Linked DNA regions of Homo sapiens: region 1 is linked to region 2. Evidence: fine-mapped expression QTL. Tissue or cell type: whole blood. Region 2 holds a variant in brackets; the other region holds the start of a gene. All regions are shown on one strand. Distances are from middle to middle.

Region 1 (6,484 bases), 21 kb before region 2:
CGATCGAGTTCGAACTCCAAAAAAGAACTATCATATGGCATATGAGGGGATGACCTCCTCTGCAAGGTGCCGGATCCCGGGGCTGCCCTAGGCCGGCTGCAGACTTGCTGTGTGGCCTCCAAGCAAGATCTTGCCCTCTCTGAGCCTCAGATTTCCCATTTGTAAAATAAAGACCAATAATGTCCAGGTTACAGGCTTGTGGGGGGTCATCAACTGAGCCCTGCCTGTTCGCTCAATAAACGTTGGTCGCTCCTTACTCCTTACCACTGAGTCTCAGGGCGAAAGAGTGGCGCCTGTCTCTTTAAATTATGCAAATAGACTGCGGGTGGCGTAAGGGGGGGAACATAAAAAGGAGCCTAGTCTTCGGCTGGACCAATCAGCGCGCTGAGCTGGCGGAGCTGGGCGCCTAAATGGCCCAATGGGGGGCCGCGCGGGATCAGAGCCCGCCCTGCCTCCTGGCGCCGTCGCGGGGGTGGGGACTTTCTAGGCCACGCCCCGGGGGCGGAGCCCGCCGGCAGCCGCGCCGCAGCCGCGGAGGGAGGGGCGGGGCGGGCTCCGGTGTCAGCGACCAAGCCGCAGGTGGCGGCGAGCGCGGGGCTCGGCCCGAGCTCAGGAGGTGAGTGTTGCCCCCCGGAACCCCCTGGGATACCCTGGCCCGCGCAGCCTCCCACGCGCACCGTGCCCTGCAGCCCCGGCGGCTGCGGAGGGCAAAGGCGCGGCGGGACGCGAGGGATGGAGAGCAGGGGGTTGGGGCTACGCGGTGGGCGCCCCGGCTTCCCCCTCCAAGTGGTAATTGGGGGTCCGCAGGCGAAAATGGGGACCGCTCCCCAAATCCCCCGTCTCCTGGCCTAGAACCGAGCGTGCACGGGGGCGGCGACGACGCGAGACCCCTCCCCAAATTCTTTTATTCTAAGCCTAGGTCTGGGTTCTGGGGCTGCAAAGATGGGGGCGCCGCTCCCCTTCCAGCCTGGAACCCTGGGCGGTGGCTGAGATGGGGACCACCCGCAGATTCCCTCTTCCCAGCTCCGGCCTGCAGACCACCGGGGACCGAGACGAGGGACCCCTTCCCTTTTCCTCCACTGTGAACCCCTATCCAGGCCTGGTGGCTGGAGGAGCTGGGGTGTCACCTGGCCCCTCCTCTAATCTGCCCCATCCCAGTCCTCCACCTTAAGGATGGGGTGGGGGGCGTTTCACTGGCATCTTCTGTGGGGACCCCAAGGTTGGAATTTTGGGGAGGAGGTCACTGTGGGGTCCCCTGCCTGGCACGGTTTATCCAGGCCAGGCCTTGAAGGGCCTGGAGCCTGGACTTGGGGGGGGGGTCCCTCTTTTACTGAGGGGCGGGGTGTACAGCTAGCATCTGTTTCTGGGGATTAAAATAAATCGAGGTAAATTAGGATCTTGCCAGAGGCTGGCTGTGAGTGGGGTGCGGAGGAGGCTTGGGGGGTGGGGGACCCCTCCATCTGCCTTGGATCCCCCGAGTCACCTGCCCCAGCTGCACTGGGGACCAGGAGGCAGTGTCGAATGGACCTGCTTCACTGGTGACCTTGGGCAGGTGACAGCACCTTTCTGAACCTCGGTTTCCTCTTTTGAAAATTGAGGTTGGGAGCTTCGGACCCTGCATTTTACAGATTCTGAACTCACCCAGCCCACATTTTGTCCAATGGTGATTCACTCTTTTGCTTAACATGTGGGTGGTTTGGGGTCAAGACAGCATTGGGTTTGGAGACCCTCCCACAGTGCCTTGCTATCCTCTCAGCCTCAGTTTACTGCACTGCAAAATGGGTTGATGATGACACTCTGATATTGGGGCTGAGGGCATGGGGACAGGGAGTAAAACATAGGACCAAGCTGCAATGGCTGGGATGGGGCATCGCCACCCTGGTCTCACCATTGGGGCCACTTAGGGCACACCCTGACCCACATACCATCACCCACGCCAGGGGTGAACCTGTTCTCGGGCGAGGTCCTGGGCAGGAGGGGGTGGGAGTTGCCAGGCCAGCTCATTCCCTGTCCCTTGGAGCGCCCTCCCAGTGGTGGGCATGGGGCTGGGAGTCTGACACCCCCAGGTTTGAATTTGCCTCTACCTGTGTGTGTGTTTTTCCCTTGGTGCCTTTGTTTGTTCTTCTGTGAAATGGGCTGAATTCCTCTGGGAAGATGGGAGGAGTCTGTGGGAGGAGGAAGCTCTGTAAATACAGACATGATTATTATAATATTAATGACAGTATTAGTGCTCTTTAAATCGGGTCACAGCTGACCAGGAGGAGGGAGGGGAAGGGGGAGTCTATCAAAGGCATTGCCTGAGGAGACTCCAGCACCTGGGAAAGTTGGGTACACAGTAGGCATTCAATAGATGTTTGCCAAATGAAGTGAGGAAGAGGGAGGGGACCCATGGGGAGGACAGAAAATTTCTGAGAATCCCTGGCTCAGATTCCCACTTGGTGGCCCGAGTCACTGTGTGACCTGGGGCACGTGTCTCAGTTTCCCCATCGTGGTGCTGGTTGAGATAAGATACTGCCTTGAGGTGTGGTGACGAGAATCAAGCCAGATTGTCTGTGATCGCAGCCCAGGTGGCGAGGCCAAGAGGGGAGACATGACATAGTGGGTCATTGAAACAGCATGGTACCTGCTTGAACCAAGTGACTGGTCCGTGGGAAGGATGAGAAAACCCTTGCTACTGGCCCTACTGTACATACACTGGGGTCCAAGAGAGAGGGAAATGTGAGATCCTGTTTCCCAGGATCCTGGAAGCCAGATCGTGGAAGGTCAGGAGTGGCCCAAGGTCATCAGGCAAGACGTCAGCGGCTCCGGACACCCAGCCAGGCACCACTCGATTCCCAGGATGGGAGCTCGGGTCTTGCCTTTGTTGCTGATGTGGTTCCTGCTTTGTTTTATCTGTTCTGGGGCTGCTCACATGTCTCAGCCCCAGGTTTGCAAGACTTGGTGCCGGGAAGGCAGGATGGGGACCTCTGAGTCAGCTGGCAATGTGCTGTGTAACCTTGGGCAAGTCTCCGGCCATCTCTGGGCTTTGTGCTGGTACTGTACAGGCTGGGAGACTTGGGTTCTAGCAGGGCTGACTTCTCCATCAGACCCAAAATGCCCAGTGTCTCAGGCTCACAGTGCTTTTAGGGGTCCCTAGGTTGATGTTTTCACTTCTTTTAAAATCCAAAGGGAAAAAAATGAACTCTTGGGTTGAAGGAAACATTTTTGTGTATAATATTAATATATTTGTCTTTATGTCAATGTAGTTGTAAAATACAGTTTTGTTTTGTTTTGTTTTTGAGACAGAGTCTCTCTCTGTCACCCAGGCTGGAGTGCAGTGGCTCGATCTCCGCTCACTGCAACCTCCATCTCCTGGGTTCAAGCGATTCTCCTGCCTCAGCCTCCCGAGTAGCTGGGATTACAGGCATATGCCACCCCACCCAGCTAACTTTTGTATTTTTAGTAGAGACGGGGTTTTACCATGTTGCCCAGGCTGTTCTCGCACTCCTGGGCTCAAGCAATCCACCTGCCTCGGCCTCCCAAAGTGCTGGGATTCCAGGCATCAGCCACCACCTAAAATATAATTTTAAATTTCTTTTGTAGTGAAGGAAAGCGCTCATGAATGCAAAAATGTCTTCCCCTTTCTTTTCTTTTTTTTTTTTTTTTGAGATGGAGTCTCGCTCTGTCGCCAGGCTGGAGTGCAGTGGCGCAATCTCGGCTCACTGCAACCTCTGGCTCACTGCAACCTCCACCTCCCGGGTTCAAGTGATTCTCCTGCCTCAGCCTCCTGAGTAGCTGGGACTACAGGCATGGGCCACCACGCCCAGCTAATTTTTGTATTTTTAGTAGAGACGGGGTTTCACCGTGTTGGCCAGGATAGTGTCAACCTCTTGACCTCGTGATCCACCCACCTTGGCCTCTCAAAGTGCTGGGATTACAGGCGTGAGCCACCGCGCCTGGCCATGTCTTCCCCTTTCTGAGCGCATTTCCCTCTCTGAGCCTCAGTTTGCCCAGTCTGTGAAGTGGGTATCGGCCTACCTCAGGATGGCAAGATGTTGAATGCCTGGGCCAGGGTTGGTGCTCAGTTATTTCCCAATTGCCATGATTAATATTTGTTCGGTAAGAACAGCTCCAGGTTCAGGCCGGGGGGCTCCAGGTTCAAGCGCCTCTTGTTTACTCACCCATGGCCTGTGTGGTTCCAGGGAGGTCCCATGGGTGCTGATCGGGCGGGGGAGGAAAGGTGGCGGTTGGATGGTAGGCGGGGCGGGGTGAGCTTCCTGTCCCCCCCCCAACCCATGCACACAAGCCTCCAACTTGGTGCTGACGGAAGTGGCCTCGTGGCTGTCTCCTGGCGCCTGCCCCGTCAGACAGGGGCCCCATCCCACTCGCTACCCTGTCCGGTGAGTTTGAGCCCTGGCCAGTAGATACCCATCATCTCGCCTTGGCCCCCCTCAGGAACAGAGGGGAGGCCCCCCTGCCCGGAGCCTGGGTTTCAGGAGAAGTAGCAGGTGTCACTTCCTGGGCTGGCCAAAGCCTGCATGGGGCCACCCGTTGCCCTGCCCCCCGTCCCCCATTCCAGCTGTGAGTGGTGGTTTGGGTTAGGGGGGCGGCAAGGGGAGCTTGGAAACCCAGAGAGCCACGCGTGATGGTTTCAAACAGGAGGTCATTGGCAGACAGACCAGGGGCAAAATCACAGTCAGCCGGGACCAATGATTGATCTCTCTGTGCCTCGGTTTCCTTCATAAAGTTGGGGTTGCCTCTGAGGGCATGGCATGAAGATTGGATGAGCAGATGCGTGTGAATAGTTGGGTACAGGGTCGCACACATACTGGTGCTCCATGTGTATCTGTCTGCCAGAGGTGGGGTGAGGCAATCTAATTGAAACTGTGAAAACAGTAGTGAGATTCTTGGTTTCTGGGGAACTTGGGCTCCTTGGTTCCTGGGATCTTCTAGAACAATGTTGGCCATCCAATACAGCAGCCATCAGCCCCATGTAGCTACTGAGCCTTGGAAGAGAGGCTGGCACAGCTGAGGAGCTGGGCATATAATTGTATGTATGTATGTATGTATGTATGTATGTATTTAATTATTATTTTTTTAAGACAGAATCTCACTCTTTCAACCAGGTTGGAGTGCAGTGGGGCAATCTTGGCTCACTACAACCTCCGCCTCCCAGGTTCAAGTGATTCTCCTGCCTCATCCTCCCAAGTAGCTGGGACTACAGGTGTGTGCCACCACGCCCTGCTGATTTTTATATTTTTTGGTAGAGATGGGGTTTCACCATGTTGGCCAGGCAGGTCTCGAACTCCTGACCTCAAGTGATCCACCCACCTCGGCCTCCCAAAGTGCTGGGATTACAGGCGTGAGCCACTGCGCCCAGCCAATTGTATTTAATTTTACTTGGTTTAACATTAATACAAAAATTAATACAAAAATTAAGGCCAGGGGTTGTGGCTCATGGCTGTAATCCCAGCACTTTGGGGGTCCCAGGCAGGAGGATGGCTTGAGCTCAGGAGTTCGAGACTGGCCTGGGCCACACTAGTGAGACCTAGTCTCTACAAAAAAAAAAAAAAAAATTTATTTTTAATTAGTTAGACATGTAGTCCCAGCTACTCGGGTGGCTGAGATGGGAGGATCACTTGAGCCTGGGAAGTCGAGGCTGCCATGAGCTGTGATCATGCCACTGCACACTCCAGCCTGGGTGACAGAGCAAGAACCTGTCTCCAGAAAAAATAAAAAAATAAAAAAAACTTAATACAAAAATTATTCAGGCGTGAGCCTGTAGTCTCAGCTACTCGGGAGGCTACTATTCAAGGCTCCCTTGAGCCTGGGAGGTGGAGGCTGCAGTGAGCTATGATCGCACCACTGCACTCCAGCCTGGGCAACAGAGCGAGACCCTGTCTCCAAAAAAAAAAAAAATTAAGTCACCACATGGGGCTAGTGGTTCCCATGCCAGTCAGCACAGCTCTAAGAGATTTGGAGATGCTTAGGGTCCTGGTCATGGACAGAAGCTAAGAAATGATATGGAAATTTAGGGCTTTTCCCCTAGGGATGTCAGTGTAGCATGCTCACCACCCTACCCCTGCCACCAAACTAGGTTTCCTAAGGGGGTGTGGTGGGGACTGAAGTTTTTCAGGGGCCCTGTCATTAACCAGTGCAGGGTTGGGAATGTTTGTTGAAACAAATAATTCCTTGCCCAGTGAACTCCTATTCATGCTTTAAAACCCCAACTCCCATGAGCCCTCCTTTAGTCCAGGTTCTTTTGGACCTTGTCCCTCCATCTGGCCCAGCCCTGACCATGCAGGACGGTGATATCTGTGTCCAGCTCTGTCTCTCTAGACTGGGGACTCCTGCAGGGCCAGGCCCGAGGCTGAATCAACTCAGGGACCCTGACATTGTTCTAGTCTGGGTGAGCAAGTAGGAGGTCTTGGGTGACTCACAGAAGTCCCGGGATTGGAGGCTCAATGATAATGGGTCCAATTAAACTAACTAACTTTCTTTCTTT
Region 2 (7,732 bases):
TTTGGCACTGCAGCGACAGATTCAAGTGTTTGTATCAAGCCAAACACATTTGCTATCTGTCCCTTTACAGAAAACATTTGCCAACAGCTGTTCTAAAGCATTGGAAGTTACAGATATTCATATTTACTATTTTTACACTCTTATAAACCTAGAATCAGAAGAACCATCTTAGACTCTTAGAATTCCACAATATCCAAAGCTTATAATTGTAGAATCATAGATGCATTGTCTTTACAGAGTTCCAAAATCTGCATGTTTTTATGTCTTGTTTAAAAAGGGGGTTGGTAATACTTTGTTTTTGTTTTGTTTTGTTTTGTTTTTTTGAGATGGAGACTTGCTCTGTTGCCCAGGCTGGAGTGCAGTGTGCACAATCTCAGCTCACTGCAATCTCCATCTCTTGGGTTCAAGCAATTCTCCTGCCTCAGCCTCCCAGGTAGTTGGGATTACAGGTGTGCTGGTGCACGCCTGGCTAATTTTTTGTATTTTTAGTAGAGACAGTGTTTCACCATGTTGGCCAGGCTGGTCTTGAATTCCTGACCTCAGGTGATCTGCCCGCCTCAGCCTTCCAAAGTGTTGGGATTACAGGTGTGAGCCACCGCGCCTGGCTTTGCTGATTTTTAAATTTTTTGTATAGAAGGGATCTTGCTAGCCAGGAGCGATGGCTCATGCCTGTAATCCCAGCACTTTGGGAAGTTGAGGCAGGCATATCACTTGAAGTCAGGAGTTCCAGACCAGCCTGGCCAACATGGTGAAACCCTGTCTATACTAAAAACACAAAAATTAGCCAGACGTGGTGGCACACACACCTGTAATCCCAGCTACTCAGGAGGCTGAGACAGGAGAATGACTTGAGCCTGGGAGGTGGAGGTTGCAGTCAGTTGAGATCGCGACACACCACTCCAGCCCGGGCAACAGAGTGAGACTCTGTCTCAAAAACAAAACAAGGCAAAAAAAAAAAAAAGGAGAGAGAGAAGGGGTCCTGCTGTGTTGCCCAGGCTGGTCAAACATCTAACATATCTGCCTCAGCCTTCCAAAATGTTGGCATTACAGGCATGGGTCACTGTGCCTGGCCAGGAGTGAATTTTTAAGTGGTAAAAGCAGGCCAGGCGTGGTGTGCATGCCTGTAGTCCCAGCTACTTGGGAGGCTGAGCTGAGGTGTGAGAATTGCTTGAGCCTAAGAGTTAGAGACCAGTTTGGGCAACACAGTGAGACCCCATCTCTTAAAAAAAAAAGCTGGGCACAGTGACTTATGTCTGTAATCCCAGCACTTTGGGAGGCTGAGGCGGGCAGATCACCTGAAGTCGGGAGTTCAAGACCAGCCTGGCCAAAATGGTGAAACCCTGTCTCTACTAAAAATACAAAATTAGCCGGGCATGGTGGTGCATGCTTGTAATCCCAGCTACTTGGGAGGCTGAGGCAGGAGAATCGCTTAAACCCGGGAGGCGGAGGTTGCAGGGAGCTGAGATTGTGCCACTGCACTCCAGCCTGGGTGAAAGAGCAAGACTCCGCCTCAAAAAAAAAAAAAAAAAAAAGGCCTGGCACGGTGGCTCAAGCCTGTAATCCCAGCACTTTGGGAGTCCGAGGCAGGCAGATCACGAGGTCAGGAGATCGAGACCATCCTGACTAACACGGTGAAACCCCGTCTCTACTAAAAATACAAAAGAAAAATTAGCCGGGCGTGGTGGCGGCGCCTGTAGTCTCAGCTACTCAGGAGGCTGAGGCAGGAGAATGGCGTGAACCCGGGAGGCGGAGCTTGCAGTGAGCCAAGATCGCGCCACTGCACTCCAGCCTGGGTGACACAGCGAGACTTCGTCTCAAACACACACACACACACACACACACACACACACACACACACACACACACACACAAAACGGTGAGTTAAGCAACACAGTCTGCCACTGTTTGTCATAAAACTTGGGTTAGAACAAGCATCTTTATCCATATGCGGATTATTTCTAGAGAAGTATCACAGTAATAATTGGGGACTTCTAGGCTGGAGGGCCCATATATGGGAGGCTTTTTCCTGGCTTACCTCTTACAACTTTCTGAAATATGAACCATGTGTAAATAGTACTTTTTTTTAAAGTTAAAAATGTTTTGAAATGAAAAACGTACAGGCCGGGCGTAGTGGCTCACACCTGTAATCCCAACACTTTGGGAGGCTGAGGCAGGTGGATTGCTTGAGTGTAGGAGTTTGAGACCAGCCTGGGCAACATAGCAAGACCCCATTGCTATTAAAACACACACACAGAGGCCGGGCGTGGTGGCTCACACCTGTAATGCCAGCACTTTGGGAGGCCAAGGTGGGCAGATCACCTGAGGTCAGGAGTTAGAGACCAGCCTGGCCAACATGGTGAAACCCCGTCTCCACTAAAAATACAAAAAATTATCTGGGTGTGATGGTGAGCACCTGTAATCTCAGCTACTTGGGAGGCTGAGGCAGGAGAATTGCTTGAAACCGGGAGGCAGAGATTGCAGTGAGTCGAGATCGTGCCACTGCACTCCAGCCTGGACAACAAGAGCGAAACTCTGTCTAAAAAAAACCAAACCAAAACACACACACACACATAGAAAAAGACTGTGGAGCTGACATCACGTGGAGTGTTTGGGAGGTCAGGAATTTCACAGTCTACCCATGAAATCCCCTCCTACCCCGCAGTGCAAGGAGGAAGTGGTGAGCACCTTGGATGCTGTGCAGGTACTCTCGGGCGTCAGCCAGCTCCTGCCCAAGTCCCGCGAGAACTACCTGAACCGTTGCATGGACCAGGAGCGGCTGCGGAGGGAGAGTACCAGCCAGAAGGAGATGGACAAGGTGGGCTCACAGTGGGGGGGTTCTGAGGAATTTGCCGCGGGGCGGAGGGGCTGCCTGATCAGAGAGTGGAAACACATCCCAGAGCGACGGTCCTGGAACCTGTGGGTGATCACACCCTGGGTACCCCGAGGAGTTCACCTGCCAGGTGATGGGGCCTGGGGGAGGCCCCCTGAGTATCGCCCTCCCATCCCCGTTTCCTCCCTGTGCTTTGTAGGCGGAGACTAAAACCAAGAAGGCGGCAGAGAGCCTGCGGCGCTCAGTGGAAAAATACAACTCAGCCCGAGCTGACTTTGAGCAGAAGATGCTGGACTCAGCCCTGGTAAGAACCAGGCATCTGTACCTTTAAGACCCACACATGCCTTTGCCCTGGAGGTTATGGACTGCAGAAATCCCAGGCAGGGTGTGGTGGCTCACACCTGTAATCCCAGCACTTTGGGAGGCCGAGGCGGGAGGATCACCTGAGGTCAGGAGTTTGAGACCAGCCTGGCCAACATGGCGAAAGCCTGTCTCTACTAAAAATACAAAATTAGCCGGGCGTAGTGGCAGGTGCCTGTAATCCCAGCTACTCAGGAGGCTGAGGCGGGAGAATCACTTGAACCAGAAGGCGGAGGTTGCAGTGAGCCAAGATCGAGCCATTGTACTCCAGGTTAGGTGATAGAGTGGAACCCTGTCTCGAAAAAATAAAATAAATTCAAGCAGATTGGAATCTGAGGATTAGGAATCAGAACTTTTTTCAAGTTACAAGTGATAGAAGCCTTCATTCAAACCGACAGGTGTATATAAAAAAAAAAAAGAAAAGAAAAGAAAAAGGCTGGGCGCGGTGGCTCATGCCTGTAATCCCAGCACTTTGGGAGGCCGAGGCAGGTGGATCACGAGGTCAGGAGATCGAGACTATCCTGGCTAACACGGTGAAACCCCCTCTCTACTAAAAATACAAAAAAATTAGCCGGGCGTGGTGGTGGGTGCCTGTAGTCCCAGCTGCTCAGGAGGCTGAGGCCGGAGAATGGCGAGAACCCAGGAGGCGGAGCTTGCAGTGAGCCGAGATTGCGCCACTGCACTCCAGCCTGGGCGACAGAGCGAGACTCTGTCTCAAAAAAATAAAAAATAAAATAAAAAATAAAATTTAAAAAAACTGACAAGCTCAGGGAACTGTAAAGTTTT[A/G]TTTTTGAGTTGTGGAGGTTTCAGTCATAGCTGAATCCATGTGCTCAAATAGTGCTGGCAGGAAATTGTGAATTTCTGCTTCTTTTATTTTTTTGAGATGGGATCTCTCTGTCACTCAGGCTGGAGTGCAGTGGCGTGATCTCAGCTCACTGCAACCTCCGCCTCCTGGGCTCAAGTGATTCTCCTGCCTCAGCCTCCCTAGTAGTTGGGATTACAGGCACGTGCCACCACACCCAGCTAATTTTTGTATTTTTAGTAGAAACGGTTTCACCATGTTGCCCAGACTGGTCTTGAATTCCTGACCTCAGATGATCCACCTGCCTTGGCCTCCCAAAGTGCTGGGATTACAGGCATGATACACCACAGCTGACCACTATTTCTGCTTCTTAAGTCTGTTTTTCTCTCTGGGGACATCACTCCCACACAGACATCCCCTTGTGTGTGTGTGTGTGTGCATGTGTGTGCAAGCATGCACATGTGTGCATCAAACTGGGCACCAGCAACCCCCACTTACATCCCATCAGCACATTGGCTCAGGAATGGAAGTGCCTTTTCCTGTAGAGTCAATGAAAGTCCTAGGGCAGACTCTCATTGGCCCTTCCCCAAATCAATCACTGAGCCAAGGGCTTAGGGTATTCTGATTGGTCAGGCTGAGTCATATGGCCACTTCTTCTTGGCCCTGACCTCCTTTCCACCTGCCTCTGCCCTCCTGCTTCAGCGCTTCCAAGCCATGGAGGAGACACACCTGAGGCACATGAAGGCACTGCTGGGCTCATATGCTCACTCGGTGGAGGACACGCACGTGCAGATTGGGCAGGTGAGTTGGGCAGGTGTGAGGAATGAGGCTGGGGTCACTGCTGGGCAAAGGGGCCTTGACCAGTTACACACCCCGCCCACCCGGCACAGGTGCATGAGGAATTTAAGCAGAACATCGAGAACGTCAGCGTGGAGATGCTACTCAGGAAGTTTGCAGAGAGTAAGGGCACAGGCCGGGAGAAGCCTGGTGAGTCAGGGCAGCCATTGGGGGTCGGGCTTCGGGGCCACAGCTGCAGACAGGCATGTGCCACCATGCCCAGCTAATTTTTTTTTTATTTTTTTATTTTTAATAGAGACGAGGTTTCACCATGTTGGCCAGGCTGGTCTCGAACTCTTGACCTCAGGTGATCTGCCTGCCTCGGCCTCCCAAAGTGCTGGGATTACAGGCGTGAGCCACTGCACATGGCCAGGCCTTGGTTTCTTCATGGGAAAAATGGGCTGCTGACAAGTCCAGCTCTCCAGCCTGATCTTATGTGTAAATGTCTTTGAACCAGATCCCAGAGGAGCCTTGAATGCCAGGCTTGGCTGATCAGACTTCACCCCCAGGGCCTAAGGGAGCCATTGAGGGTTGTTGAGCAAAAGAACAATTTGGGAATGCGCAGATGCAGGACTGGGAAGGAGTTAAGAGCAAAAGTTTTAGAGTGAGACGTGGGTTTGAGTCTTTTCTTCATCGCTTGCTGTGTGACCTAGGACCTGTGCTTTGACTTCTCTGAGCCTCAGTTTCCTCATCTGTAAAGTGAGGATGTAATAATGTTGCAACATTCAGTGATTTCATGCAGGTAAAGGGCAAAGGGTGTGCCAGGCACACAGTAGGCACTCACTAAATGCTGGTATACAGTTACGTCCTCAAGTCTTGTTAACTAGCAAAACCTGTTCTTTCTCCCTCCTGTCGCTCTGGCTCAGGCCTGGCTCAGGTCTCCCCTCCCTGCATGGGGCCCCACTCTTGCCCTTCACAGGCCCCAGATCTGTTTTGTCCTCCTCCTGCTCACACACCTTCCATGGCTCCCCATTGTTCTTGGGAGAGAGTTCCCACTCCTTATCCTGTCACTCAAAGCCCAGCCCACTGCACAGACGCATGGTCCATTCCCCGACCCAACCCAAGTTCCAGCCACAAATGCTGGAAGTATGTAGAAGTAGCTCATGTCACCCCCTGCGGTGGCACTGCCCTGCTGGAACCAGACCAGCCCCTTGGTCCATCCCACTTCTGATGATGTGGGGCTGGTTCTTGTCCGGGAACCTGATGGACCTTGAGTTCAGATCCAGGTGCCATTTTGTGGCCAAAAGTGTACTACCCTTTCCAAGCGCAGTCTCCCCACCCTCAATTTAGTTTCTTTCTCTCTCTCTCTCTCTTTTTTTTTTTTTTTTAATTTTTTTGAGGCAGAGTCTTGCTCTGTCACCCAGGCTGGAGTGCAGTGGTGCAGTCTCGGCTCACTGCAACCTCCGCCTCCTGGGTTCAAGCGATTCTCCTGCCTCAGCCTCCCCAGTAGCTGGGATTACAGGCGCCTGCCACCATGTCCGGCTTTTTTGTAATTTTAGCAGAGACAGGGTTTCACCATGGTGGCCAGGCTGGTCTTGAACTCCTGACCTCAGGTGATCCGCCCGCCTTAGCCTCCCAAAGTGCTGGGATTACAGGCATGGGCCACCGTGCCCAGCCCCTCAATTGAGTTTCCGTCTCCTGTCTCAGGACCTCTGGACTTCGAGGCATACAGTGCGGCTGCCCTGCAGGAAGGCAAGTACGTCTGGGCCTGGATGCCCAGGCTGGACCATGGGGGTGAGGGAGGCTGATCTGAATGTGAAAGGAGGCTCACAGTGCTCAGGTGCCCCCCAATCTATCCTCAGCGATGAAACGTTTGCGGGGAGCCAAGGCCTTTCGCCTTCCAGGACTAAGCCGGCGGGAGCGGGAGCCAGAGCCACCTGCAGCTGTGTGAGGAAGCACCCCTGCCCGGTCTGGCCCAGGCTAGACCGAGATCCCCTCCCCTGCCCAGGCTATCCCAGAAGTCCCCTCCTAGGATAGCCCAGGAGTATCCATATTCCAGGCTGGACCAGGATTCCCTCTACCTGAGCTAGACCAGGAGTACCTCTGCCCCCGGCTAGCTCAATATTACCGCTGCCCAAGCTAGTCCAGAATTCTTCCTTTTGCTAGGTTAGGCCAGGAATTGCCTGTCCCAGAGTAACGTAGCATCTTCCCTGCCCAAGCTGGCCCAGGATTGTTCTGTTTGCCAAGGCTAGCCCCGACTTTCCCTATCTTCACAAGGCAGCCCTTCAAATGAGTTCCAGGATTCCTTCCCTCCCAGGCTGTTTGAGAACACTCTCTACTCAGCTAACTTCAGATTCAACCCCCTCCCCAAGCAAGCCCCATGGTCCCACCGCCTCTAGGGCTAGCTCAGGGCAGTATCACAGTCTGGGAGCTGCCCCAGCTTCCATGTCCAGTGTTGGGGGCTGACAGGGGGCACCAGATGGGCTGCGGAAGCTGACACCAACATCTCTTCCTCCATCCCCAGAGATTTCCTGGAGCCCGATTCAGGGGTGAGTGATGTGGGAGGGGTCAGGCTGGGCTACAAGTGGAAGGAGTTTGATCCCACTCTTGGCTCCTAGAGTCCCGATCCCTACTGGAAACTAAAGAGCCGAGATTGAGGGGCGGGCTGGAGCCTGGGGGCTGGGTTCATATCCCACCTCAGCTGCAAAGTCCCATGGACTACGTGGGTGTGAATAATGTCCCTGCCGAAGCTCAGTTTGTCCCAGGAACCTGCCCACACACCCAGGGAAGACAGTCGTTGCCATCAGGGTTGGTTTTGAGGTCTGAGTCAAGGCCTGGGGGCAGGGCGGGGGGCGGTTGGCAGGGTGAGATGGAAGGTTCGATAGTGGGGCGCCTGACTCACTGCTGCCCCCTGACTCCCCTAGACATGTCCAGAGGTGGATGAAGAAGGTTTCACTGTCCGG

Evidence for each region. PIP is the estimated chance that this variant, and not a neighbour inherited with it, causes the effect.
Region 1: it holds the start of FCHO1, and the variant in region 2 is fine-mapped to the expression of FCHO1 in whole blood (TOPMed, PIP above 0.99).

What each region holds. Positions count from the first base shown.
Region 1 is chr19:17,747,199-17,753,682 of GRCh38, forward strand. FCHO1 (FCH and mu domain containing endocytic adaptor 1) reads left to right here and starts at 4,279. Exons shown (of 29, transcript NM_015122.3): 1 at 4,279-4,379. It overlaps FCHO1-AS1 (FCHO1 antisense RNA 1), which reads right to left and starts at 4,199. Exons shown (of 5, transcript XR_007067152.1): 1 at 4,018-4,199; 2 at 3,460-3,552; 3 at 2,085-2,165. RefSeq lists a silencer at 332-751 and an enhancer at 6,437-6,484.
Region 2 is chr19:17,767,763-17,775,494 of GRCh38, forward strand. It overlaps FCHO1 (FCH and mu domain containing endocytic adaptor 1), which reads left to right. Exons shown (of 29, transcript NM_015122.3): 8 at 2,663-2,815; 9 at 3,030-3,134; 10 at 4,695-4,793; 11 at 4,883-4,979; 12 at 6,477-6,521; 13 at 6,632-6,716; 14 at 7,294-7,318; 15 at 7,694-7,732. Among named protein-coding and RNA genes, the nearest start is that of FCHO1, 20 kb to the left of the region's middle. The variant A/G (reference allele first, on the strand shown) is at 3,977.